7 linked regions of the Homo sapiens genome follow. The protein of the gene in region 6 interacts with the protein of the main gene of each other region in a pairwise test. Each region holds a gene or a part of one and is shown on either strand. Other genes may lie near its edges. The genes, in order: PRKAA2, PEX26, HEXB, STMN3, TADA2A, MKRN3 and ZFP57.

Region 1 (3,500 bases), on a different chromosome or scaffold from region 6:
GATTTCAGTGTGTTTACTGATATGAAAGTAATCTTTTTTTTTTTTTTGAGACTAGTCTGGCTCTGTCGCCCAGGCTGGAGTGCAGTGGTGCTATCTCAGCTCACTGCAAGCTCCGCCTCCTGGGTTCACGCCATTCTCTTGCCTCAGCCTCCCCAGTAGCTGAGACTACAGGCGCCTGCCACCACGCCTGGCTAATTTTTTTTTTTTTTTTTTTTTTGGAGACAGAATCTTGCTCTGTCACCAGTCTGGAGTGCAGTGGCGCGATCTCGGCTCACTACAACCTCTGCCTCCTGGGTTCAAGCGATTCCACTGCCTCGGCCTCCCGACTAGCTGGGACTACAGGCGTGCACCACCACGCCCTGCTAATTTTTTGTATTGTAGTAGAGATGGGGTTTCACCATGTTGGCCAGGATGGTCTCGATCTCCTGACCTCGTAATACGCCCGCCTCAGCTTCCCAAAGTGCTGGGAGTAAAGGCGTGAGCTATTGCGCCCGGCCTCACCCGGCTAATTTTCTGTATTTTTGGTAGAGACAGGGTTTCACCGTGTTAGCCAGGATGGTCTTGCTCTCTTGACCTTGTGATCCACCTGCCTCGGCCTCCCAAAGTGCTGGGATTACAGGCTATAAAGGTAATCTTGACTAGTGATTGCCAGTAACCTTTAGTAACCAGACTAAAGAGAACTTGTACAAATGATTTGATGTTCTAGAAGAAAACATTGGTATAAGAAGGTATTAGCTCTGGAATTAATTCCATTTCTACTACCAGTTGTCTCACCTTTGGGAAAAACCATTAGATGCTGAGCCTTTGTTTCCTCCTTCGTAATATGGCAATGATCATACTTGTCCTGCCTACCTTCTGGAATAGTTATGAAGATCAAATGAGTTGAGGTATATAAAATGGCTTTGGAAAAGATAAAATGCTATACAGATAGATGACACTTGTGGAGATGGTGAGATGCATGGCAATTGTAGGTAAATTCTGCACCCTGTGTTAGAAAGTACTTACTTTCCATTGAAATGCCTTCAGTTCTCACACCAACATTGAGATAGAGCTGTAGTAATCTGCCCCTATTTTGTGGTTGCCTAGGTTGAAGAAAGCTCTTAATGACTACTTTATCTGTGCTTTATGATACTTATTAATGTTTATATTAAAAACAATATCCTGTATGACTAAGTCATGTAATTTGCTTTTTCCCAAATATGGAAGATGAATGAAACAAGAATGAAATGGAAGTAATAGTTAAATAAAAGTGAATGTACACACATTCACAGTAAATTGATTTTACTTTTGAAATTATGCAAATTCTAAACAAGTGTTAAATATTGGTTCCAAATAATGAAATTATGTTTCTTCTCAAATACTAGATTAGTGATTGAATTAAAATCAGTTGAATTATTCTCACAATTAGGTAAATACGTGCTATTTAGGTTTCTCTTGCTGATATATATAGATATATATAATATATATATAATTTATATGATTTTTGAATTGTGTCCTTAATATCTGAATGGATTTTGTTCATTTGGTGTAGCCAGTTGATTGACTTTCAAAGGGTATTTTAAATAGGAAACAATGTTATAAATGGTAGCTATTTTCATAGTATGTCCACAAAGGCAGCCTGATGTAGTATAAATACTCTCTGTAGTATGTTGAACTTAGAAGACCTGGTGTGGAACCTTTGTTTTGTCATAAACCAGCTATGTGGTCAAACTCAATCTGTAAAAATGGGAATAATACCATATGTTCTCTTCTAGTGTTGTGAGAAGTACATGAGAAAATGTACATAGATGAAAAAGCACTCAGAAGTACTTATGTACTTTTGTGTATGTAGACACCATTATGTACTTAAACCCACAATTAGCTGAACTATGAGAATAATCTGTGATCTGGTTCTGAGACCAGAAATTTATTGATGAGAGAGAGGGAAGAATTCACTACCTCCTGTCTTGTTTTACTCTGGTCTTATTTCTGCAAATGAATGTGTTCAGAAACCTGTAATTCTCTAGAAGCTGCTCACTTTTCACCATCTTCTGTGCATCACTTGGAAGGCACAAACACATTATATATATTTTGTATACATACATATATATGTATGTATGTATTCCAGATCCCATGGTATCCATCATAGAAACTCTTGGAGGAAAGAGGCATAAGCTGGGAAGGGGGAAAGTGTGGGCAGCAGATGGCATTTAGTATGAATGGGTCATTTTAAAGTCCTGGTCCACTTGTAGTAGAACCAAAATGAGGCTATACATATATTTTCAGTTCAGATAATACACTCTGAGCTAAAAATGCTTTTCTACCAAACTTTATCTTAACATATCCATATAAATTAGAAAGGATTTTGTAGTTTGGTCATATATTGAGGTAATTACCTCAGTTCCATGAGCTTTCTCCCTTTTTCATGCTGACACAACCATGCTTTATCTTGCTTCTTTTTGTAAAAACATCCCAAAATGTCCACTTACCTTGTGGTCCATGTTAGCTTTCTTGAAAGCATTTGGTACTGCTTTGTAATAATAATACCACCCCATTTATTCTTCTGAGATTCCTGTGGTTTCCTAAATGATAGAGAAAATATTTTGTAGAGGAAGTATTAATAATTTTTGAAGCCAAGCAGATAATTTAATTTGACCTAGCAGGAAGATCTAATCTCAAATCCTTTAAGAAATAATGAGTAAGTGGCTGGCACAAGACCCTTAAAGCATTAAATATGTTATAAAAATGAGAGCAAATCTACCTAGTGTATTTATCAACTACAAATATAAGAGAAATGTAAACCTTAAATCAGGCTTTTATTTTTATCTGTTATTGAAGTGATTGAAATGCGTATGAAAAGCAATGTGTTTATTTTGAAATATGATGAACCTTTTTATTTTTAGTATGGTGTTATTAAGGAAAGAATTTCAGGCAGTTATCTCTGCTAATAATAGAAGCCTTCTTCACCCCTTCAAGGGAACAGTATTCTTGCTTAAGTGGTGTCTTATGTTTGGCAGTGTTTGCCTCTGATAAATTTTATGTATTTCTTTGGGTGGTACCTTTGTTTTTAAAATATTCATAATTCTCTTTTTAATCTGCCATTAGATCTTTTTAAACAGCCTTTTATATGATTAAAGATAATTTATAAAATCTTGCTATATGTCTCTTACTCTGAATGTTAGTATGTTATTAATATACTTTGTTTTTTCAGAATCATTTTTCTTCAGATTATATATACTATTAAAACAAGAACAGTGTGTTCTTATTCAACATCTCAGTTTCTAAATTATAAATGAATTATAAGGTAAGTTAAACTGACTGTCATAAAACAATAGATCTAACATTTTTAAATATACCATACTTTTTTTTTTCTAAATGCTTGTTTTACTTGGGCAATATGATAAGTATAAGTTATTTTCATTTTCTTTTTAAAAAAATCATTTTACTGTTTCTCACAATGTATGTATTTATATATCTATATATATATATTTTTTTTTTTTTTTTGTAGAGACAGGGTCTCA
Region 2 (3,500 bases), on a different chromosome or scaffold from region 6:
GCCTTGGCCTCCCAAAGTGCTGGGATTACTGGCATGAGCCACTGCGCCTGGCCTGAAAGGTTCTGAAAGGTTTTAAAAAACTTTTACAAAGATGCATTCAATATAGTAAATAATATATAGTCAAAATAAGTAATAAACACGAGGAAAACAATTTATATTCATGAGATTTGCAAGAGTATGTGCAGTTAAGGAATGAAGGCTTTAGCCAATACCTAATACCCTTTTACTAAACTCTTTTTTTTTTTTTTTTGAGACGGAGTTTTGCTCTTGTTGCCCAAGCTGGAGTGCAATGGCACGATCTTGGCTCACTGCAGCCTCCACCTCCCAGATTCAAGTGATTCTCGTGCCTCAGGCTCCCAAGTAGCTGGGACTACAGGCGCACACCACCACGCCTGGCTAATTTTTGTATTTTTAGTAGAGACGGGGTTTCACCATGTTAGCCAGGATGGTCTCGATCTCCTGACCTTGTGATCCACCTGCCTCAGCCTCCCAAAGTGCTGGGATTACAGGCATGAGCCACTGCGCCTGGCCTGCTCAGGTCTTAGAAGCAAGCACAGAGGTCGGGGTCAGGGAAGCTGATTCCCATGACATCCCTGAAGCTGTGCTCTGTCTCCCTGGCCAGGCTCTGTCTCCCACAAGTTCCTGTCACTACCGATGTTGGTTCGCCAGCTTTGGGACTCTGCGGTGAGCCACTTCTTTTCTCTGCCCTTCAAAAAGAGTCTCCTGGCTGCCTTGATCCTCTGTCTCCTGGTGGTGAGATTTGATCCAGGTAAGAGGTGGAGACTCTCCCCTGTCCTTCCTGGGAAGGGGTTGTTGCCAGGGCTGGGCCTGTGGGAGTGGGTGTTTGTCAGAGTCCTACTGGGGAGGGGAGTCTCTCCTATGACATTTCCCCTGAGTCTGTTCCACAAGGAGGAATTGCTAGACTGGGCATGAGCCAGCCCCACCCATAAGGAGAGGCCAGTCCTGGAGTCTATGAGAGCAGCCAGGAGAAAGTCCACTTGGCCCTGCTGACTCCTGAACATGGACTGAGTCATAGTCCTCCACTTTTTCTAGGGCTGAACTCTGACTAGAACCTCAGAATTTAAAAAAACTTCCTCTTGGCCAGGCACGGTGGCTCACGCCTGTAATCCCAGCACTTTGGGAGGCCAAGGCAGGCAGATCACAAGGTCAGGAAATCGAGACCAGCCTGGCCAACATGGTAAAGCCCCATCTCTACTAAAGATACAAAAAAAATTAGCCAGGTGTAGTGGCACATGCCTGTAGTCCCAGCTACTTGGGAGGTTGAGGCAGGAGAATAGCTTGAACCCGGGAGGCGGAGGTTGCAGTGAGCCAAGATCGCACTGCTGCACTCCAGCCTGGGCAATAGAGCGAGACTCTGTCTCAAAACAAAAAACAAAAAACAAAAAAACTTCCGCTCATCAGAATATCTACAAAAGTGTTAATTCAAGTATTAATGTCTCATGAAGTGTTAATTCAAAGCAAGTTGTAAATGAAAAACTCATACATTTTAGAAAATGTGGAAAATAGGCCGGACATGGTGGCTCACACCTGTAATCCCAGCACTATGGGAGGCCAAGGAGGGTGGATCACCTGAGGTCAGGAGTTCGAGAACAGCCTGGCCAATATGGTGAAACCCCGTCTCTACTAAAAATACAAAAATTAGCCAGGTGTGGTGGTGCGTGCCTGTAATCCCAGCAACTGGGGAGGGTGAGGCAGGGAGCATTGCTTGAACCCAGGAGGCGGAGGTTGCAGTGAGCCAAGATTGCACTGTTGCCCTCTGGCCTGGGCTACAAGAGCGAAACTCTGTCTCAAAAAAGAAAAAAAAATGTGGAAAATAGAGAAAAGTATAAAGAAGGGCATAGAAATCTGCTACTCTGCTGTGCTTTCAGTCTTTTTCTATGGATATAGAGATTGTAGGCAGTTACATGTCACACATATGCTTTCAAGCATGGCCTTAAATCGCTAACTATTCCAGTTCACAGGAATGCCCCTAAGTAATTTAACAACCCCTATTATTGAACATTTGGGTGATTATTCTGTTTTCTGCCTCGCTGTGAAGAAGGAATGAGCTCCCTAAGTGATATTTGGGAACAACCCCAGTTATTTCCTGAGGATTGACCCCTCAGGTGCATGAAGCCAAACTTGGCACTCGCTCTTTTAGATTTTTTTGTGTTACTCAGTGTGAGTTATGTTCTAATCTCTACTCTTCTCATGAATTTAGACTTAGAATATGATTAAATAAGTTTCAAAATTTAAGAGGAAATCAGAAACCCTTATACTGGTCCCTTCAAATGGTTTGTCTATTTTGAGAAGTGCCATTTGTTAACTTAGTCTTTAGATTCTCCCTGTTTCCCCATTTCTCTTTCTCTTATTCAGTGAGCTTTTTTAAAATATTTATTTATTTATTTTTATTTTTATTTTATTTTATTTATTTAGTTTTTGATACTGGGTCTTTCTCTGTTGCCCAGGCTGGAGTGCACCGGCGTGATCTTGGCTCACTGCAACCTCTGCCTCCTAGGCTCAAGCGATCTTCTCTCCTCAGCCTCCCAAGTAACTGGGACTACAGGCATGTGCCTCCATGCCCGGCTAATTTTTTATTTTTATTTTTGAGACAGAGTCTTGCTCTGTTGCCCAGGTTGCAGTGGCGTGATCTCGGCTTACTGCAACCTCCGCCTCCTGGGTTCAAGCGATTCTCCTGCCTCAGTATCCCAAGTAGCTGGGATTACAGGCACACACCACCATGCCAGGCTACATTTTGTATTTTTAGTAGAGACGGGGTTTCGCCATGTTTGCCAGGCTGGTCTCCAACTTCTGGCCTTAAGTGATCCTCTCACCTCAGCCTCCCACAGTGCTGGGATTATAGGCACAAGCCATCATGCCTGGCCAGCGAGGTTTCCGTCACATAGCTCAGAGTTGTCCTTCTAACCCGTCTGCTGAATGCTGAGCAGGGATCCCCTGTGGACGACTCTGTTTGCTTTACAAAGAAGTCACGAGTTAGCGCTCGGAATGCTCAGTATCATCAGCGTTCATCCCTGGCCACCTCCTGACTGATACAGATTTAGAAACTCTTTATGATTCTTTATGGTTCCCGTAAGCCCTTTAGTCTCGTAAACCCTGGTCTCCTAGTGGGGATGGCATGAGGACATTTGAGCCTGCTCTTTCCAAGGCTGCTTCAGAAGGGCCTGGCCCAGTGGCCCTGACCCTCAGCAGCAGGCCCGACTCATTGGAGTGATGATGGTGGGGGAGGAGAACCTGCACCTGCAGGCTGAGGATCGCATGAGCCCCAGAGATTGAGGCTGCAGTGAGCTGAACACAGACTGCACTGTACTCTAGCCTAGGTGACAGAGCGAGACCCTGTCTCTAAAAAAAACAAAACAAAACCAACTATGTGTAATTGGTAGTGGAGTCTCCCAGGGTGGGAGATGGCAGAGTGACAGGTGAGAGGGGTGGGACGTTCACTGTAGTCTCCCTCTGCCCTGCAGCTTCCCCTTCCTCCCTGC
Region 3 (3,500 bases), on a different chromosome or scaffold from region 6:
CAAAGGAGATTTTAGCCTTATCTATATTATATTGCTTTTAAACAGAATATATAGATATGTCATTTGTATATTCACCCTCCAAAACAAATGTATTTATGGTGCAAAAAGATACAGAATGGGCTAACTGAAAAGTCAATGATATAATTCCTTTCACACTTCAGGGAAGTGATCATTGTTAACACTAATAACTTGGTTGTGAAGTAAAAATGGAAATTCTATAGCTATGTGTCCATATATTTAGAAAACCAAATTTCTAATTGTTATATGTATTTTCCACTGAGTTGAATTACAGTCCTGTTTAATATCAGCCAGTTGTCAACTATTAGAAAATAATTGGTATCAAATATATGCAATATATTAATGTTTTTTAGGTGACTGTGCTATTTCTGGAAGATCTCAAAACTAGAATGTGGCAAAAAAATGTTTTTAAACAGTGACCAATGGAGCAGTGAGCTCTAGGTAGCTGATTAAGAATTTGATACAGGCTGGGTACAGTAGCTGACACCTGTAATCCCAACACTTTGGGAGGCTGAGGCCGGTAGATGGCTTGAGCCCAGGAGTTCAAGACCAGCCTGGGCAACATGGCAAAACCCTGTCTCTACAAAAAAAAAAAAAAAAAAGAAAGAGAAAAATTAGCCAGGCGTGGTGGCACATGCCTACAGTCCCAGCTACTTGGGAGGTCGAGGCTGCAATGAACCGTGATTGTGCCACTCCACTCCAGCCTGGGCAGCACAGTGAGACTCTGTCTCAACAACAACACAAGAATTTGCTATAGATGTAGAGGAAACATAATTAGACTATGCTCATAAATAGCAATATAGTTCTTAGCCTGGCATTGGCTAACTCATCTAATGGAGTGTGGTTATCTAATGGAAAAGGCTATCTTGTCAGAAGACTATCACCTGAGATGCTCACACTACTGATAGAGCACTTTTGCCTACCTGCAGCTAACTATTCTGTGAGCATCTGAATGGTGGTGGTGGTAGAAGGTGATAAACCACCCCAGAGGACACAGTATTAAATCATTAATCTCCAGCCCATCAGTGTCTTTGCCGTGGCAAAGTCCAAAGCTGTTACACCCTTTAGCTTTCAATCTCTTTACCATCTGTGGGTTTACTATGTGGTTGATTCCACTCCAGACCTCTCTAAAAGACTAAATGACTATTGGGCCAACCTTAGAGTGTGCTTCAAAGATTGAAAGATTAGCCTCTCACCAGAAGCAGCTAACTGGAGTCCCATTCTGGATGATGTGAACTTTTAATTGAGTGGGACAAAGCTGAATTATTTTTATTGAGTGAGACAAAGCTGAACTAAGCTAAAGGGATTTGGAGAGTAAGTCTTAAGGCAGATTTGGATGATACTGAGGGAAGGTGGGTACAGGGCAAGTAGAAAATTCTGAATGCAAAAGAGTGGAGATACTCTCTGGCCTTAAAGGGAGTAGATTTGAGCGACACCTAGGGCGTTACCAAGGATTAGTAGGAACTGAGGAATGTTTGCACTTTCAACTAAACTCTTAGCTTAACTAGGACCCTACTCTGTTGAGGAGAAGTTGGAGAGACTAACTCTTTTAGGAAAATGAGGAAACATGGAGTTGACACCCAAATTCCCGTTCTGAGTGACTCAAGTGACTGGATGGTGGTGCTGTGACTCACTGAAATGAGGAACACAGAAGACCAGCAGGTTGAAGTGTGCGGAGGAGGGAGGGAAGAGTTCTGTTGGGGCATGTGGAGTCGAAGGAACCTGCAGGACATCCAAATGGAGATGTACAGGAGGCAGTTAGAGAAATAGGTCATGTGCTTGGGAGAAAATAATAGTCCAGAAATATCAATGACATGTTTAGGAAACTTATTGTGTGTCATTGAGGGATTAACAAAAGTGTGTGTGTGATTTTAAATCCTCAATACAGATACTTTACTTGTGAAAGAACCAGTGGCTGTCCTTAAGGCCAACAGAGTTTGGGGAGCATTACGAGGTAAGTTCCATGCAGTTTCATTGTTACTTTCCAGTAAAGGAAAATTTTCAGTTGGTGCTTTGTGAAATTAAGCACAGCAAAACTTTGCCGCCTTAGATCCTTTACAGAATGCTTTGTTATGTAGTTCCAAAATGATTTCCATTGAACATGTACTACATAAAGCATGGGAGAGGTCAGCACAGTGGCTCACGCCTGTAATCCCAGCACTTCGAGAGGCTGAGGTAGGTGATGATTGCCTGAGCTCAGAAGTCTGAGACCAGCCTGGGCAACATGGTGCAACTCCATCTCTACAAAAAGTACACAAATTAGCCAGGCATAGTGGTGTGGACCTATAGTCCCAGCTACTCTGGAGGCTGAGGTGGGAGGATTGCTTGAGTCCAGGACGTTGAGGCTGCAGCGAGCCTAGATCACACCACTGCATTCCAGGCTGGGCAACAGAGCAAGACCCCTGTCTCAAAAAAATACAAATAAATAAATACAGCATGGGAGAAAACTCATTTGACCTCTCAAAAAATGTTTGAAGGTTATTACATTCCTGCAGTGCTGTAATTCATTGATGCTCTTGGGACTGTAATGTTTATAGCACTACACATGGCCCCAACCTGTCCTGATTAGGGAATTTTGTTTCAGCTATCACTTCTGTTGACTTCAGAAGCAAGCATCTCTCTTCCCTAATTTTAAATTCCTGTAGATTTAGAAACATAACTAAGTTTGTATAAGGAACAGTGTCAAAAGGCAAATATGCTATAGAGTTGGTTAGAGGCAGTGGGCAGGGAGTAACTTGAAAAGCTTCTCATGAGAATTTCAGAGTCTGAACTTCAAAGTTTGACCTCAGGACATTTGCTGTTCAAAAGTTTCTTTTACCTTTCTTTCTAGGCAGATAAGATACTGTACTGACTTCCGAATAGCAGAGTTTTTAGAAAGGGAATTTAAAAAAACATGAACTAACCAAACTTAGTCATTAAAATAAAGGCTTGGGATTGATCATAGTCACTCACACCTGTAATCCCACCACTTTGGGAGGTTGAGGCAGGCAGATCACTTGAGGTCAGGAGTTCGAGACCAGACTGGCCAACATGGTGAAATCCCATCTCTACTAAAAATACAAAAAAAAAATGAGCCAGGCATGGTGGCGCATGCCTGTAATCCCAACTACTTGGGAGGGTGAGGCAGGAGAATTGCTTGAACCTGGGAGAGGGAGGTTGCAGTGAGCTGAGCTGGCACCACTGCATTCCAGCCTTGGTGACAGAGCAAAACTCCATCTCAAAAAACAAAATAAATAAAGATTTGGAATCTGACTCAGAGTGTTACCTAAAATAATCATTGTTATGCTATATATTTTATACCATAAGATTATAATTTTATTCAAAATAGAATATGAAAATATCTAGATATTTACTACAAATGTAATTTTATTTATGTATAATATTAGTGATTTTAAGCTTTTATTAGTCCAATCTGCCTGTCTCATCTGCGTCTGCTAAGGAGAAGAGACGCTTTTTTTTTTTTTTTTTTTTGAGACAGAATC
Region 4 (3,500 bases), on a different chromosome or scaffold from region 6:
AAAATTAGCCGGGTGTGGTGGCATGTGCGTGTAATCCCTGCTACTTGGGAGGCTGAGGCAGGAGAATCGCTAGAACCCAGGAGGCGGAATTGCAGTGAGCAGAGATAAAAAAAAAAAGAAAACTGGTGTGCTGGCATGCACCTGTAGTCCCAGCTGCTAAGATGGCAGGATCCGTCAAGCCCAGAAGTTCAAGGCTGCAGTGAACCGCACAGCTGCACCCTACACTCCAGCATGGGCAACAGAGCACAGTCCTGTTTCTAAAAAATAAAGTAGGCCAGGCACAGTGGCTCACACCTGTAATCCCAGCACTTTGGGAGGTCGAGGCGGGCGGATCACGAGGTCAGGAGATCGAGACTATCCTGGCTAATATAGTGAAACCCCGTCTCTACTAAAAATACAAAAAATTAGCTGGGTGTGGTGGCGGTGCCTGTGGTCCCAGCTACTCGGGAGGCTGAGGCAGGAGAATGGTGTGAACCCAGGAGGCGGAGCTTGCGGTGAGCCGAGATCGCACCACTGCACTGCAGCCTGGGCAACAGTGCAAGACTCCATCTCAAAAAGAAAAAAAGAAAACTTGACAAGTCAGACCAAAGTCCCCTGTGAGGCTCCCCCACCTGGTCCCCCTCCATCTCCCTCCCTGAAGACAATGACCAAGACAGGTAGCTTTGCCTCGCTTCCCGGCTCAAAGTCTCATTCCTTCCCCCAAAGGCTCTCGCACGGGCCTGCCCACCCTGGGATTCCTTTCTGCTCCTCCTTACACCCTCTTGGGCTCTGTGCTGCTCTGTCCAGAAAAGTGTAGGTCACCAGGAAATTTAAGTCAGGACAGACCATTCTCTGCACTGTCACCAGAAGACCCAGCTCACCATGAAAGGCTTGATTACTTCTGCCTTGTCTGTCTTCCTTTCCTTTCCTTTCTTCTTTTCCTCCCTCCCTCCCTCCTTCCTTTCTTCCTCTCTCTCTTTTTCTTTCTGTTTTGAGACGGAGTCTCACACTGTCACCCAGGCTGGAGTGCGATGGCGCGACCTCGGCTCACTGCAACCTCCGCCTCCCAGGTTCAAGCGATTCTCCTGCCTCAGCCTCCCAAGTAGCTAGGATTACAGGTGCCTGCCACCACGCCTGGCTAATTTTTATATTTTTAGTAGAGATCGGGTTTCACCATGTTGGTCAGGCTGGTCTCAAACTCCTGACCTCAGGTGTTCCACCTGCCTTGGCCTCCCAAAGTGCTGGGATTACAGTTAAATGAGCCACTGCACCCAGCCAAAAGGATTATCGAGCACTAGTGAGAAACCGGGCCAGCGTGTCTGCTTAGGAATGAGGTTCGCCCTGAATAGACCAAAAGAGCTAAATTATTTTCACTGTGACAGCAGGCGCCTTCCTCTTCCCCTGACAGGGCACAGGGCCACAGGAGCCCGGCTTGCTTCTGGTTTGGGTTGGGCAGCAGGGACACTGGCTGGTGGGCACTTGATTGACCTGAATGGGCAAGAGGGCTGGCTGTGGTGCTGAACGGACAGCTTCCCTCCCTTGCTCCTTGGTGGCATCAGTGGCCCAAGCCCAGCCCTAGATAGACAGAGAGCATGTGCCTGGAGAGGGCCTGGTTTCATCTCAAGGTGACCACACAATCATTGGGAAGGAAAAAGGAGGGTCTGAGGGCTTCATCCAGGTTTACAGCCCAAGAAAGTCCTGCCCACAGAGGGTTTGCATCTGTGCTGGTCCCGTCATGAGTAAATCTTGCCTGCTTGAGCTGGCGAGGAGTGGGAAGGAGGAGGAGGGGAGAGAGAAGTAGCGGGACAGAGGGAGGTAAGAGTCAGAAAGACACACAGTGACAAGGAATCACAGAAAGATGCACTCAGGGAGAAAGACAGAGTCAGGGGCTACCCCCAGAGACACAGAAAGATACAATGACAGTGACAGAGTCAGACACACAGAAGGTAAACAGAGACCCAGACAGGCAGGGGTAGCCACTTTGTCAGTCTGGGCAGGTACCTGAGACTGAGTGGTTTATAGACGACAGGAACTTATTTCCCATCGCTCTGGAGGCCAGAAAGTCCAGGATCAAGGTGCCGGCAGAGTCGGTGCCTGGAGAGGTCTCGCCTCCTGGTACATAGACGGGTGGCGTCTTCTGGCTGTGTCCTCACATGATGGAAGGTGAGGGAGTTCTCTGAAGCCCCACTCTGGGGCCACTTAGGAGGGCTCTATCCTCATGGCCTAATTCCCTCCGAATGCCTCACCTCCGCACACCGGCACCTTGGGGTTACGATTTCAACACATGAGTTTTGGGTAATGGAAACATTCAGACCACAGCAGGCAGGAGAAGGATGGAGAAACAAGTCAGTGTGGAAGATGAGACAGACATTAATGCCGAGAGAGAGGAAAAGCGGGGAGAGGCAGAGGGCGAGAGAGACAGAAGGCAGGGGACACACCACGGAGACAGTGCCGACGTCTGGAAGCGAGAGAGCTGGAGAGACGAAGGGGCCGGCGGTGTGGAGACACACAAGAGAGCGTGCTGGGCAGCTCCGTGTCTCACAGAGACATGATAGAGGCAGCCATGGGGAGGGAAAACGGGGGCCCAGGTGGGCAGGCCCCAGTGGTGCTTGCTCAGCCCAGCCTTGTGCCCACAGCCTACAAGGAGAAGATGAAGGAGCTGTCGGTGCTGTCGCTCATCTGCTCCTGCTTCTACACACAGCCGCACCCCAATACCGTCTACCAGTACGGGGGTGAGTGCCTGGCTGCCGCCTGCCCTTCCCTGCGGTGCCTGCCCACCTCACCTTTTCCCCCGGCCTCCGGCAGTCTCTCTGAACTCCCGTCCTGGCTGCCTCTGGAGAGGGAGGTTCTAGGGGGAAGGGGCCCATCCTGGGGGCTGAAGCCTGGGATTCCTGCGGGAGCAGCCACCCCCTCTCGCCCAGCCCTGGGGTTGGATGTGTGCTGGGAGCATCCCGCTCAGCCCACGCCATGCCCTGGCCGGGCCTCTGAAGCTCTACTCTGGTCTTGCCCTGCAGACATGGAGGTGAAGCAGCTGGACAAGCGGGCCTCAGGCCAGAGCTTCGAGGTCATCCTCAAGTCCCCTTCTGACCTGTCCCCAGAGAGCCCTATGCTCTCCTCCCCACCCAAGAAGAAGGACACCTCCCTGGAGGAGCTGCAAAAGCGGCTGGAGGCAGCCGAGGAGCGGAGGAAGGCAAGGAGTCCTCCATCCCCCACCCCCCAGGAGTTTCAACGGAGGCGGCCCACGGGGACAGGGCCTGCAAGAAGCAGGGTGCTCCCGGACAGGCTTGGTCAGTGCCTTGGCCTGGAGCAGGAGGGGCTGTGGCTCCCTGGGCCTCTTTCTGAGAGATAAGAATGGGATGGGGAGAGGCCGGGTGTGGTGGCTCACGCCTGTAATCCCAGAACTTTGGGAAGCTGAGGCAGGCAGATCACTTGAGGTTGGAAGTTCAAGATCAGCCTGGCCAACATGGTGAAACCCCATCTGTACTAAAAATACAAAATTAGCCAGGTGTGGTGGTGCACAC
Region 5 (3,500 bases), on a different chromosome or scaffold from region 6:
TTATTAATTGCCTTGGTGTCAAGCCCAAGAATCAGTTTGTTATTTTTGTTCGCTTGGTTGTGTCAGTGATGGCGAACTTTTTAATCTCATGTGCGTGTGGGACCAGTGGGTCTCTTAATAAAATATAACCAAAAACATGATGAATTATAAATGACCATCTTTCCTGAATGACTCTCAGGGTACAAGTAATGAGATATGAATGTTTTCACTTCCCTTTTCTCTTTCCTCATACTCTCTAGAAACAGTTTTATAGCTGACTAACTTAAAGGCTGGTAATACCTCCTTTTTTTTTTTTTTTGGAGACAGAGTCTCGCTGTGTCTCCCAGGCTGGAGTGCAGTGGCACAACCTCGGCTTACTGCAACCTCCACCTCCAGGGTTCAAACGATTCTCGTGCCTCAGCCTCCTGAGTAGCTGGTACCACAGGTGCATGCCACCACACCTGGCTAATTTTTTGTATTTTTAGTAGAGAAAAGGTTTTGCTGTGTTGGCGAGGCTGGTCTCGAACTCCTGACCTTATGATCTGCCCGCCTCGGCCTCCCAAAGTGTTGGGATTACAGGTGTGAGCCACCGTGCCTGGTTGATACCTCCTATTTGGATAGCACTTTGGTGTTAGCACTTTGTTCTCAAATCCATTAGACCATTTGTTTCCTAACAGCAACCCAGTGAGATAGGCAGAGCAAGTGCTTTTGTTTTACATTCGAGAAGACCGATGCAGACAGGTTAGTTTGTGCAGGGTCATGGGACTAGTGTGTGTTGGAGCTAGGACTTAATTTCAGCTAACTTCCAATTCCAGTGTTTGTTTTTTTCCCGTCTTTTTTTTTTTTTTTTTTTTTTGCCTCTCAGTTGGATGAGTTTTGTAAATTGAAGTTCATCCTAAGGGATAAGGGAGCCGAAGCCAACGGTAAATATTTAGGTTCTGTAATATTAAAGGAAAAAAGTCATGATTTCCTTTCATTTTAGGAAAGCAGAAATCAGAAGAAATTTCCCCATATTTACTTAAAGGATTGCCTGAGTCTTGGTTTTTCTTTTTAAAAAACCTGTTTTCATAATACTTTATCTTTTTCACATTTCCTTTTATAAAAACCATTTTAAATTTTATTTATTCTTGGACTATTATGTCATTTTTTTCATGCCAATATTGTATTAGTTAACTCAGAAACCTTCTAAATTCTTCCAGCTACAGATGACCCTCCCCGACCTACCTTTGACTCCTTGCTTTCTCGGGACATGGCCGGGTACATGCCAGCTCGAGCAGATTTCATTGAGGTAGGATAAATGTGTTTTTAGCACAAAGTAGGAAAAATTCATTTTTGTTTCTCATGAGCCTTCTGTCTCACCCATAGATTCCATACCACTAAAAGGAGATTTTTCAAGGCACTATAATTTGTAGGACCTTTAGGCAGCCACATTTTCTTAGGTTTGAGTGCCTTTTCTCATTTGTAAACATTTTCACATATGGAACAGTAAAAATTCTTTAAACAAACAACCTATTTCTGGCCAGGCTCAGTGGCTTACACCTGTAATCCCAGCACTTTGGGAGCTGAGAATGGAGGATCGCTTGAGTCCAGGTGTTCGAGACTAGCCTGGGCAACGTAGTGAGACCCTGTCTCTACAAAAAATAAAAAATTAGCTGGGTGTGGTGGTGCATGCCTGTAGTCCCAACTACTTGGCAGGCTGATATGGGAGGATCACTTGAGCCTGGGAGGTTAAGGCTGTAGCGAGTGGTGATCATTCCACTAAACTGCACCCTAGACAACAGAGTAAGACCCTGTCTCCAAAAAACAAAAAAACCCCAGCAAACCCACCTCTTAAGTTGCATCAGTGCTGGCTTCCACTTCCTTAGGTATGAAATTCCTATAGTCTGGTTCTTTTTTTTTTTTTTTGAGACAGAGTTTTTGCTCTTGTTGCCCAGGCTGGAGTGCAATGGCATGGTCTTGGCCCATTGCAACCTCCACTTCCTGGGTTCAAGCGATTCTCCTGTCTCAGCCTCCCAAGTAGCTGAGACTACAGGTTCCTGCCACCATGCCTGGCTAATTTTTGTATTTTTAGTAGAGATAGGGTTTCACCATGTTGGCCAGGCTGGTCTCAAACTCCTGACCTCAGGCAATCCACCAGCCTCGGCCTCCCAAAGTGCTAGGATTACAGGCGTGAGCCACTGCACCTGGCTTGTAGTCTGGTTCTTATTGTACATCTAGGGGCTTTCAAGATTGTACTGTATCAGGGGTTGACAAACTTATTCTATTAAAGGCCAGATAGTAAATATTTTAGGTTTAGTATGCTATAAAGTTTCTATTGTAACTATACTTTGTCATTATTGTGCTAAAGCAGCATGGGATAATATAAGAATAAATGAATACGCCTGTGTTCCAGTAAAACTTTATGTACAAAAACAGACAGTAGGCTGAATAGTAGTTTACTGATTCCTGTACTATATCCACAAGTATATAAAGAATGATGAATGTGTATAAAAACTATATGTTCCTTGCTCAGCTATGGAATTAAAAGACATGTGAATGTAGCCACAAGTCTCTTGATTTATCATCTAATTCACAACTTGAAAGATAGTTTGGCCAAATGCGGTAGCTTACACCTGTAAATCCCAGCACTTTGGGAGGCTGAGGCAGGCGGATTGCTTGAGCTCAGGAGTTTGAGACCAGCCTGGGCAACATGGCAAAACGCTGTTTCTTCAACAACAACAACAAAAAAAACCCGAAACCAAAAATTAACTTGAGTGTGATGGCACATGCCTGTAGACCCAGCTGCTTGAGAGGCTGAGGCAAGAGGATCACTTGAGCCTGGGGGTTCGAGGCTGCAGTGAGCCAAGATCACACCACTGCACTCCAGCCTGAGTGACAGAGTAAGACCCTGTTTCCAAAAAAAAAAAAAAAAGAATGAATTGACTTTATTTATTTATTTCAGAGACAGGCTCTTGCTCTGTTTCCCAGGCAGTCTTGAACTCCTGGTCTCAAGTGATTTTTCCACCTAAATCTCCTGAGTAGCTGGGATTATAGGTGCATGCTACTGTGCCCAGCTCAGACTAATTTTAGTTTTTAGAGCAGTATGTTTAGCTTCATTCCTAAACTCATAACTATTCCAATTTTTTGTTGTCACTACTGCTTGTAAGCCTCTTAGATTTTTCCCATGACTTCCTATTACCTGTGCCAGTATTGTGGCCTTTTGCCATATTTAGACTTTTTAAACAACTGTTTGCTTGTGTTTTTTCTGTTTACTTCTAAAGCATGGCTGCTGTAAAGACACTAATCAAAGCCGATGGGTTTGGGGTGGGGATTTTTTTGTTCCCCTAAACAGGAATTTGACAATTATGCAGAATGGGACTTGAGAGACATTGATTTTGTTGAAGATGACTCGGACATTTTACATGGTAACAGTTTATTTTGTCAAATGTTTATCGAGCGCCAACTGTGTGATGACACTGTCTTGGGTGCTAGGAATTGAAGGATGAATAGAACATGTCCCCTGCCCTTATAGAATTCAGAAA
Region 6 (4,206 bases):
ATATTTTATTATTTTATCTTTCCATTCTTTTATTCTCATTGGTTTTAATATTTTTGTTCTATTTTCCCTTTTATAATCTTGTTACTTTTATGTTGAACTCTTTTGTCAAAAGCCCCTTGTTGGGAAAGTCTAGAGACTTTGTATATCAAATACAAAGCACTGTGCCTCTGAGCCTAGGATTTGCTGTTACAAAGAATTAATGAGAAGGTGGCTAAACTGCATAGGAAAACCATTTCTGTATTTATAGAGTAAGCTATTAATGCCATTGTAAGAATTACCAATATAGTGCTTTGTAAGTCCTCTAAGATCTGCATCTGTCACATTTGGCCAGACCCACTTGAACAGTCCTTTTCATTAGATGCTAATTACTGGCTTCTGTGCGAGGGACAGAAAGATTATTCACACAACTCACATCCACACAACAGCCAATCCTGTTAGGCTTTGACCTTCAGCTTTCAGCTCTGTATTTACTTTATTACATAAACATAAATATTATATTGTGATGTATATTCTTTTATATATTTTTTTCAAATACATAACTCTTATACATATATATTTTTATATATATAATTCTTAAATATATATTTCCAAATATAAATTATTTCATGTCAAGCTAAACAGGATAAAAACATGTAAACATATACACTTGGTTTTGGTCAAGTAAAACACAAAATCACAAGTTCATCACAGTTTAACAAGTGCACTTGAAGGGGAAGGAGGGAAAGAACAAACTGTAAACAAACAGATGAGCAGCTGCAAAGCCCTGCAAGGGTCCATTTGTTAAGGCTATTATAGCACAAAGCTACTAGTTCAATTAAAACTTCTCCTTTCACTCTGCCACATTTACTCTTGAGGGTCTTCAAAATAAGTGTGGAAATTCAGTAAACACTACACTAGAACTGAGTTAATCCTGTTGACAACAGAGATGACAAAAAAAAGCCATAAGCTGACATTAATATTAATTTCACCAAAACAGTAACTTTAAGGACTTATTTTTTAACACAGATAATCACCATAATCCTAGGGGGAAAGATATGCAGAATAGACAAGAAAACAGAAGCACTGCCTCAACAGCCCCTGAAAGCAGTAAGAGTGTCAACACAGGGAAAACAGGCAATAGCAGACGACAGAACCTCAGCAGACTAGACCACATGCCACAGCACGATGCTACAGAATCAAATTGAAATATTCTTCCAGCTCATAATGAAGCAAGTCCCACTGGTCCTCAGAGAAGGGTAACTCATCTCTCAGTGAAAGAAACCGCTTAAACAACAGACTGGCCAGCCGAAGCACGACAAGCTCCTTCTTAATGCTTTTATAGAGCATGTTGCCCTCTCCCATTCGCACAGGCTCCACAAGTTGATGCCAGTATGCGCTGAATGACCCACCACCTGGCCCAGGAGGCTCATCTCCCCAGCCCTCAGGGTATTCATGCTTGTAAAAGCATGTGTCTCCAAATGGGCAGTTACCCCTGCCTTCCGCAAAATACCTGCAGGCCTTGTTGCTCATTGCCTCCTTGTATTGCTGAATAAGTTTCTGCTTCTCTTCCTCCTCCTCCACCCAGAACTCACTGGGAATGACCAATTCAGAGGTGACCCTGCACTGTGGGCAAGACTTGACGATCCTGTTCTCAAACTGTCTGGCACTTCTCCACCTGCGGATACACCTAATACAGAAGGAATGGTTGCAATTGGAAAGAATGCCAAAGCGGCGGTCATTGGGGTTGGCCTTCTCATAGACAACCTCCATGCAGATGCCACACACCTTGTCCATACCACGCTGCACAGCAAACGAGAGTTCCATATCTTTCTCGTGTGCTTCAATGCAGGCCCTCATATGTTCTTCCCTCTGGGCAGCATCCATGGGGTGCAAGGTCTGCAGCCCACACATGTCGCATATGTCTCCATGGAGGTACATACAGCTCTCCCCACGAAAGCAAACTCCCCTGGAAGCATAATAGCAAAACCGCAACCCACTGCCCACAGCCATCTGCTTCCTCTCAGTCTCTGAGCTCTGTAGAGGAGCCTCGGGGGCAGATGCAACCCAGCGGCCCCGGTAGGGCTGCCCTGGAACAAACTCAATGGCATCCGCCCAGCTTTCTACACCTGCTCCTCCAGCAGCTCCACGGTCTGCATTGTCTCTCTCGGCTTCAAAGAAACCCCTTTCAGCAGCCGAGCCAATCACAGGCAAGGAAAGGGAGGATGCAGCCGGGGGGGCTTCCGCCACTTCCTGAGTCGGGGGCTCGATGTGCGCAGCCGTGCTAGGGCCTCCACCTGCAGAGGCCCCAGGCGGCGAAACGCCACCCTCAGTGGCCATCTTCCGACCAGAAAGGTCGTGCGAATAGCGACAGTTCTCCCCCTCCTTGCACTGCCCATGTATATAATACCTGCAGATGATCTGCTTTGTCCAAATGCCGCTGCTTCGGCTTGGCAACGGACTGGGCCAGGCTCCTCCTCCTGAGGCTGGGGCAGGCCTCAGGCCTCCTCTGCGGAGGTGGGCAGGGACTGGAGCTACAGGGAAGGGGGCCCAGCCCCTTGCCGCATGTGGCAGGGCTGAATCTGGAGCAGCAGATTCCCCGGAGGGCTCACAGACGGGAAGGTCCGGCCCAGACACACCCTCCCTTGCTGCCTCAGCACCTGCCTGGGCCCCGGCTGCCTCGTGGGCTTCTGAGGGAGCTGCAGGCTCTTCCATGGCTGCTTTGGCACCCCGAAATGGTGCCAGAACCTCTCCGGTATTTTTTCTTTATGGGCTTGAGGCCCGGAATGGCGGCCGCGCTCGGAGGCTTCTCTGGGGGAAGTGTGCATCTCTTTTTCCTTCCCCCCTGCTTTTGGGTCCCTCTGACTGTGTGTTCCTACCTACTTCCGGGCACAGGCAGCATGGCGGACACTTCCTGTGGGGGCAACGTACGTGCTCTGCCTGGTTTTTACCGCAATTTTCCAATCTGACATATTTTTTCGTTCACACAGGCGGGGACCAACCCAGCCCCTTTTGTCTGCCTTCTGCCTCTGCTTCGCTGTGTTCCGGCAGTCCCTAAGTCCCTTCTCACACGATTTCCTCAGGAGAATGAGGTTTTACTTTAATCTCTTCTGGTTTCGGTCATGCACGCTTCGTTGTATTTTCGTATCTGTCTGCCTTAAAAAAAATATAATCCTATAGATTCTGAAACATTTCATCCATGAATTATATAAATTCTTTTTTTATTCACTCCATCTTATGTCTGTGGTTTTTTTCTTTTAATGCCCGATCGCGGCAGGAAGCTTTTTTCAATTCGTTCGGTTGACAAGGCGCCGTTTCTTTTGGTCTTTGTTTTCTGGGATTTCTGAGGGCTTACACTGGATACGCTTTTCACCAGCAAGGCATTAGCAGAGAGCACTTCTGATCCGAGGCTAAGTTAGCACCTTTCAGATGTCTTTCTTTATTGTGATTACTATGCTCATTTTCCCACTGTGTTAGAAGCGCCAGACTTCAACCAGTCCTGATGCTGGCCTAATAAGACACTGTCCCCTGCATGACCCAGGCTTTTATTTTCTCTACTGGTTTAATTCATGGCAGCCCTTTGTTTCCCTTCCTTTCTTTCAACCCCATCTGTGCTGTGTTGTGGCAGGACAGCCTTTCATAACATATCCTGTGCCATATTATCCACAAAGGAATGGTCTTTAATTTCCATGTATGAGCGTTTTGTCATTTTTGCAGATAAATGTAGTAGATTAATCATTTTTTTGTATTCCTACTTTGCTGAGAGTACGTATCATGACTGCATACTGAATTCTGTTATGTAGTTTTATACATTTTTTGAGACAATTTTGTTTTTCCCTTTATTCTCTTAATGTGATTATTTGCAGCTATGAGTTTCAAATATTTAACTAACCAATTTGTTTCTAATAAGAAGCCCTTCTGTCATGATATATCATTTTATATATTATTGGATTTTTTTTCTATAAGTTTCTTTGAGGAAATTTTGTTGCCTAAATCTGTAAAGTGGAAACATATCTGAATATTTATAATCACCCAAGTCAACAAATTAAATTATAATTAAGTAGGTAAAAGCAATGAAAGCAGAATGAAGCAAATAATAAGGGCAAGAAAAGCAATGAAGAAAAACAAATATTAAATAAGGGAAATAAATTAAGTAAAATCCCTTAAACTGCTTATTGAAGCCAGATAATTTCTGGTGAAATTTATCAAGGAAAAATGAAGAAGGCTCTA
Region 7 (3,085 bases), on a different chromosome or scaffold from region 6:
GCTTGAACCCGGGAAGTGGAGGTTGCAGTAAGCCAAGATTGTGCCACTGCACTCCAGCCTGGCAACAGAGCGAGACTGTGTCTCAAAAAAAAAAAAAAAAAAAAAAAGAGAGAGAGAGAGAGACTTGGATCTTCAACTTGAAGTCAAGGGACTTGAGCCTATGATATTAAGCTCTCTTTCAACTCCAAGTCTGACCAGGCTGGACAGAGGTACACTAGGAGAGCATCTATAGAGCATTCATCCTCTTCATCAGCTCTCCATCCTTTCAGGGGTTATCCTGGGCCCTTTTCCCCTTCCTCCCTGCTTGGCAATTCTTACCTGAAAGGCCTTCTGTGTTTGGGAGATGGACAAACTCTCTCCACTGTTCCTCTTCTTGCTCAAGCTTGGTGATTAGCTCTGGCTTATGCAGAAAGATTCTGGCTGATGTGTGGGAATGAGAAAGAGTTGAGTTGGTCCCAGGTATGGCCCCTTCACATCTGATGGGGACAACAGGCTACCTCCTGTAGCCTTTGTTTAAGAACCATAACCTGGGACATGTAGATGCGGAAAGGAGACATTAAAAGGCCAGCTGCTAGCAAAGTACCTGGTTCTCAGGAGTGACTTAGTAAATATTTGTTTGATGAATGGAAAAATTTGCATATTTTGAGAACACTGTCATCATGTTACAAGTGTTATCTTTGCCTTCATGCAGGCTATCATTTCTTCTCTTTACCACTGAGCTTAGTGACTCAGATCTTTCACACCTGGAAAGCATAGAACCAGGGGTCAGTGAAACTAATTGTAAGCTGATCTACCTGTCCAGGGAAACCAGATGTTCCAGGGCCCTTAGGACAGGGGGCTTGCTGAGGGAAGCCCAGCCTCTTACCCACAGATGTTAGATTCTTAAAGGTTTCCGACATAACATCCTGGTAAAGGACCCTCTGGCTGGCATCTAGACAGTCCCACTCTTCCTGGGTGAAATTCACTGCCACATCCTCAAAGGTGACTGGCTTCTGGAAGAACAGGAGAGACTCAAGAAGTTTATATAAATATATATGTGTGTGTGTGTGTGTGTGTGTACAAGATTAACATCCAGTCTCAAGATTCAGAGAATTAAAACCTAAGAGAAAGATAAAACCATGGAAGGAAGAGAGAAATATTAAAAGACAGACACAAGGCCAGCAACTGTGAAGTATAGAAAGGAAAGGAGGCCGGACGCGGTGGCTCACGCCTGTAATCCCAGCACTTTGGGAGGCTGAGGCAGGCAGATCACGAGGTCGGGAGTTCGAGACCAGCCTGACCAATATGGTGAAACCTGGTCTCTGCTAAAAACACAAAAATTAGCTGGGCATGGTGGCGCATGCCTGTAATCCCAGCTACTCAGGAGGCTGAGGCAGGAGAATTGCTTGAGCCCGGGAGGCAGAGGTAGCAGTGAGCCAAGATCGCGCCACCGCACTCCAGCCTGGGTGACAGAGCGAGACTCCGTCTCAAAAAAAAAAAAAAGAAAAAAAAAAAAAGGAAAGGAAAGATGAAGAGAAAGGGAGAAAGATAAGATGTGGGGGAGAGGAAAGAGGATATGCAGATATGCAGAATATAAACAGGAAAGCAAAGCGAAGGAAAAAATGCTGCCACTCTAACAAATTTCAGGAAGTACTCCATGAAGGATGCCAGGATGGTGCGGGAGATGGAGAAAGGTCTTGCAGCTCCTTTTTCTGGATGTCGTTCAGTCTGGAACAATCTGAGATTTCATTTGACCTGCAGGCAGGAGTATGTATGAAAGAGCTCCTGGAGTCCAGGACCTGGACCCCACCTCTCTCTAGCTTAGTCTCCTCACCTTCTTCACCCGTGCCTCCCTCCAGCAATCTCTCTTCATGGCTTCCTGCAGGGTGGCAGCTACCTCGCCCACCCATGGGAGCGTCTTCTGTACAGGTTCGATTGGCTTCAGCTGTTCAAACATCTTCTCTTCTGTGGTGTCTCTTTCTAGCTTTATCCACTCCTGGCCTGGTGCCCAGGCCTGACTGGATTCCTTCCTGGGGCTATCTACCTCCCAGTAACTGGGCAGATGGAGAGGCCCAGCAAAGGCCCCAGGGTTTGATGTGGCTTCCTGTGACAAATGTATCTGCTCCAAGAGGCTGTCTTCCTTTTTTGTTCTGCTGTCCAAATTCTCCTCTTCCACAATTGAGAACAATTTTGCTTCCCTCAAAGCTGGGCCACCGAGTTCAGGGCCCTGGTCACCCTTGGCTCACCAGCTGCCATTGTTTAGTAACAACACCAGCCTGGGCTAGGTGTCTGCCGTCTGTTCTACCCTGCTTCTAGAAACCTGAGGTCAGAGAAAAACAAAACATATCAGCAAGAGGGAGGGTAAGAAACAGCTTCCTTATTTGGTCAGGGAATGCCAGCAGTTACTAAACCCCTACAGTGTGCCACTGGATGCTCTCAGCAATGAGGTAACAATTACTGGCCCTGTCTTAAGGACCTAATGCAGAGATGCTAAATAATTTTCCAAGGACAAGTGGACATTCTTGATCTACAAAAGTTAATGTTTAAACCTAATGTTAATGTTAGACTCAGTACCATTGGAAATCATGTAGCTGGGGTAACCAGGCTAGGATCTGTCACAGATCACCTCGAGTGAGTCTCTTTATTCTTTCTGACTTGGTTTCATCAGAAATGTGAGAATAAAGGAGACACTCTCTAAGATCTCTTCCATGACCAAAATTATACACACACACACACACACACACACACACAATTCTGTGATCTGGATTTTCAATACATGTAGTAGTTCCCCTTTATCATGGTTTTGCTTTCCAATGCTTCAGTTACCCATGGTCAACCATGGTTCAAAAATATTAAATGAAAAATTCCGGAGGACAGGCACAGTGGCTCACACCTGTAATCCCAGCATTTTGGGAGGCTGAGGTAGGCAGATCATCTGAGGTCAGGAGTTCGAGATCAGCCTGGTCAACATGGTGAAACCCTGTCTCTACTAAAAATACAAAAAGAAAATAGCTGGGCATAGTGGCACACATCTGTAATCCCAGCAACTCAGGAGGCTGAGGCAGGAGAATCACTTGAACCCTGGAGGTGGACGTTGCCATGAGCC

Evidence for each region.
Region 1: the proteins of MKRN3 (region 6) and PRKAA2 interact in binary tests that used the Homo sapiens proteins (3 or more experiments, as listed by UniProt).
Region 2: the proteins of MKRN3 (region 6) and PEX26 interact in binary tests that used the Homo sapiens proteins (3 or more experiments, as listed by UniProt).
Region 3: the proteins of MKRN3 (region 6) and HEXB interact in binary tests that used the Homo sapiens proteins (3 or more experiments, as listed by UniProt).
Region 4: the proteins of MKRN3 (region 6) and STMN3 interact in binary tests that used the Homo sapiens proteins (3 or more experiments, as listed by UniProt).
Region 5: the proteins of MKRN3 (region 6) and TADA2A interact in binary tests that used the Homo sapiens proteins (3 or more experiments, as listed by UniProt).
Region 7: the proteins of MKRN3 (region 6) and ZFP57 interact in binary tests that used the Homo sapiens proteins (3 or more experiments, as listed by UniProt).

Annotation. Positions count from the first base shown.
Region 1 is NC_000001.11:56,651,814-56,655,313, forward strand, and holds part of PRKAA2 (5'-AMP-activated protein kinase catalytic subunit alpha-2), read left to right. Parts: intron 1-3,500. UniProt on the Homo sapiens protein: Catalytic subunit of AMP-activated protein kinase (AMPK), an energy sensor protein kinase that plays a key role in regulating cellular energy metabolism.
Region 2 is NC_000022.11:18,084,490-18,087,989, forward strand, and holds part of PEX26 (peroxisome assembly protein 26), read left to right. Parts: intron 1-622; coding exon 623-769; intron 770-3,482; coding exon 3,483-3,500. UniProt on the Homo sapiens protein: Peroxisomal docking factor that anchors PEX1 and PEX6 to peroxisome membranes. PEX26 is therefore required for the formation of the PEX1-PEX6 AAA ATPase complex, a complex that mediates the extraction of the PEX5 receptor from peroxisomal membrane.
Region 3 is NC_000005.10:74,691,733-74,695,232, forward strand, and holds part of HEXB (beta-hexosaminidase subunit beta isoform 1 preproprotein), read left to right. Parts: intron 1-1,906; coding exon 1,907-1,972; intron 1,973-3,500. UniProt on the Homo sapiens protein: Hydrolyzes the non-reducing end N-acetyl-D-hexosamine and/or sulfated N-acetyl-D-hexosamine of glycoconjugates, such as the oligosaccharide moieties from proteins and neutral glycolipids, or from certain mucopolysaccharides.
Region 4 is NC_000020.11:63,643,425-63,646,924, reverse strand, and holds part of STMN3 (stathmin-3), read left to right. Parts: intron 1-2,615; coding exon 2,616-2,711; intron 2,712-2,993; coding exon 2,994-3,169; exon of another isoform or gene 3,170-3,266; intron 3,267-3,500. UniProt on the Homo sapiens protein: Exhibits microtubule-destabilizing activity, which is antagonized by STAT3.
Region 5 is NC_000017.11:37,441,386-37,444,885, forward strand, and holds part of TADA2A (transcriptional adapter 2-alpha), read left to right. Parts: intron 1-1,178; coding exon 1,179-1,267; intron 1,268-3,310; coding exon 3,311-3,383; intron 3,384-3,500. UniProt on the Homo sapiens protein: Component of the ATAC complex, a complex with histone acetyltransferase activity on histones H3 and H4. Required for the function of some acidic activation domains, which activate transcription from a distant site. Binds double-stranded DNA.
Region 6 is NC_000015.10:23,564,268-23,568,473, reverse strand, and holds MKRN3 (E3 ubiquitin-protein ligase makorin-3), read right to left. Parts: upstream 2,801-4,206; 5' UTR 2,692-2,800; coding exon 1,168-2,691; 3' UTR 430-1,167; downstream 1-429. UniProt on the Homo sapiens protein: E3 ubiquitin ligase catalyzing the covalent attachment of ubiquitin moieties onto substrate proteins.
Region 7 is NC_000006.12:29,675,068-29,678,152, forward strand, and holds part of ZFP57 (zinc finger protein 57 homolog), read right to left. Parts: intron 2,300-3,085; 5' UTR 1,937-2,299; coding exon 1,814-1,936; intron 993-1,813; coding exon 866-992; intron 421-865; coding exon 319-420; intron 1-318. UniProt on the Homo sapiens protein: Transcription regulator required to maintain maternal and paternal gene imprinting, a process by which gene expression is restricted in a parent of origin-specific manner by epigenetic modification of genomic DNA and chromatin, including DNA methylation.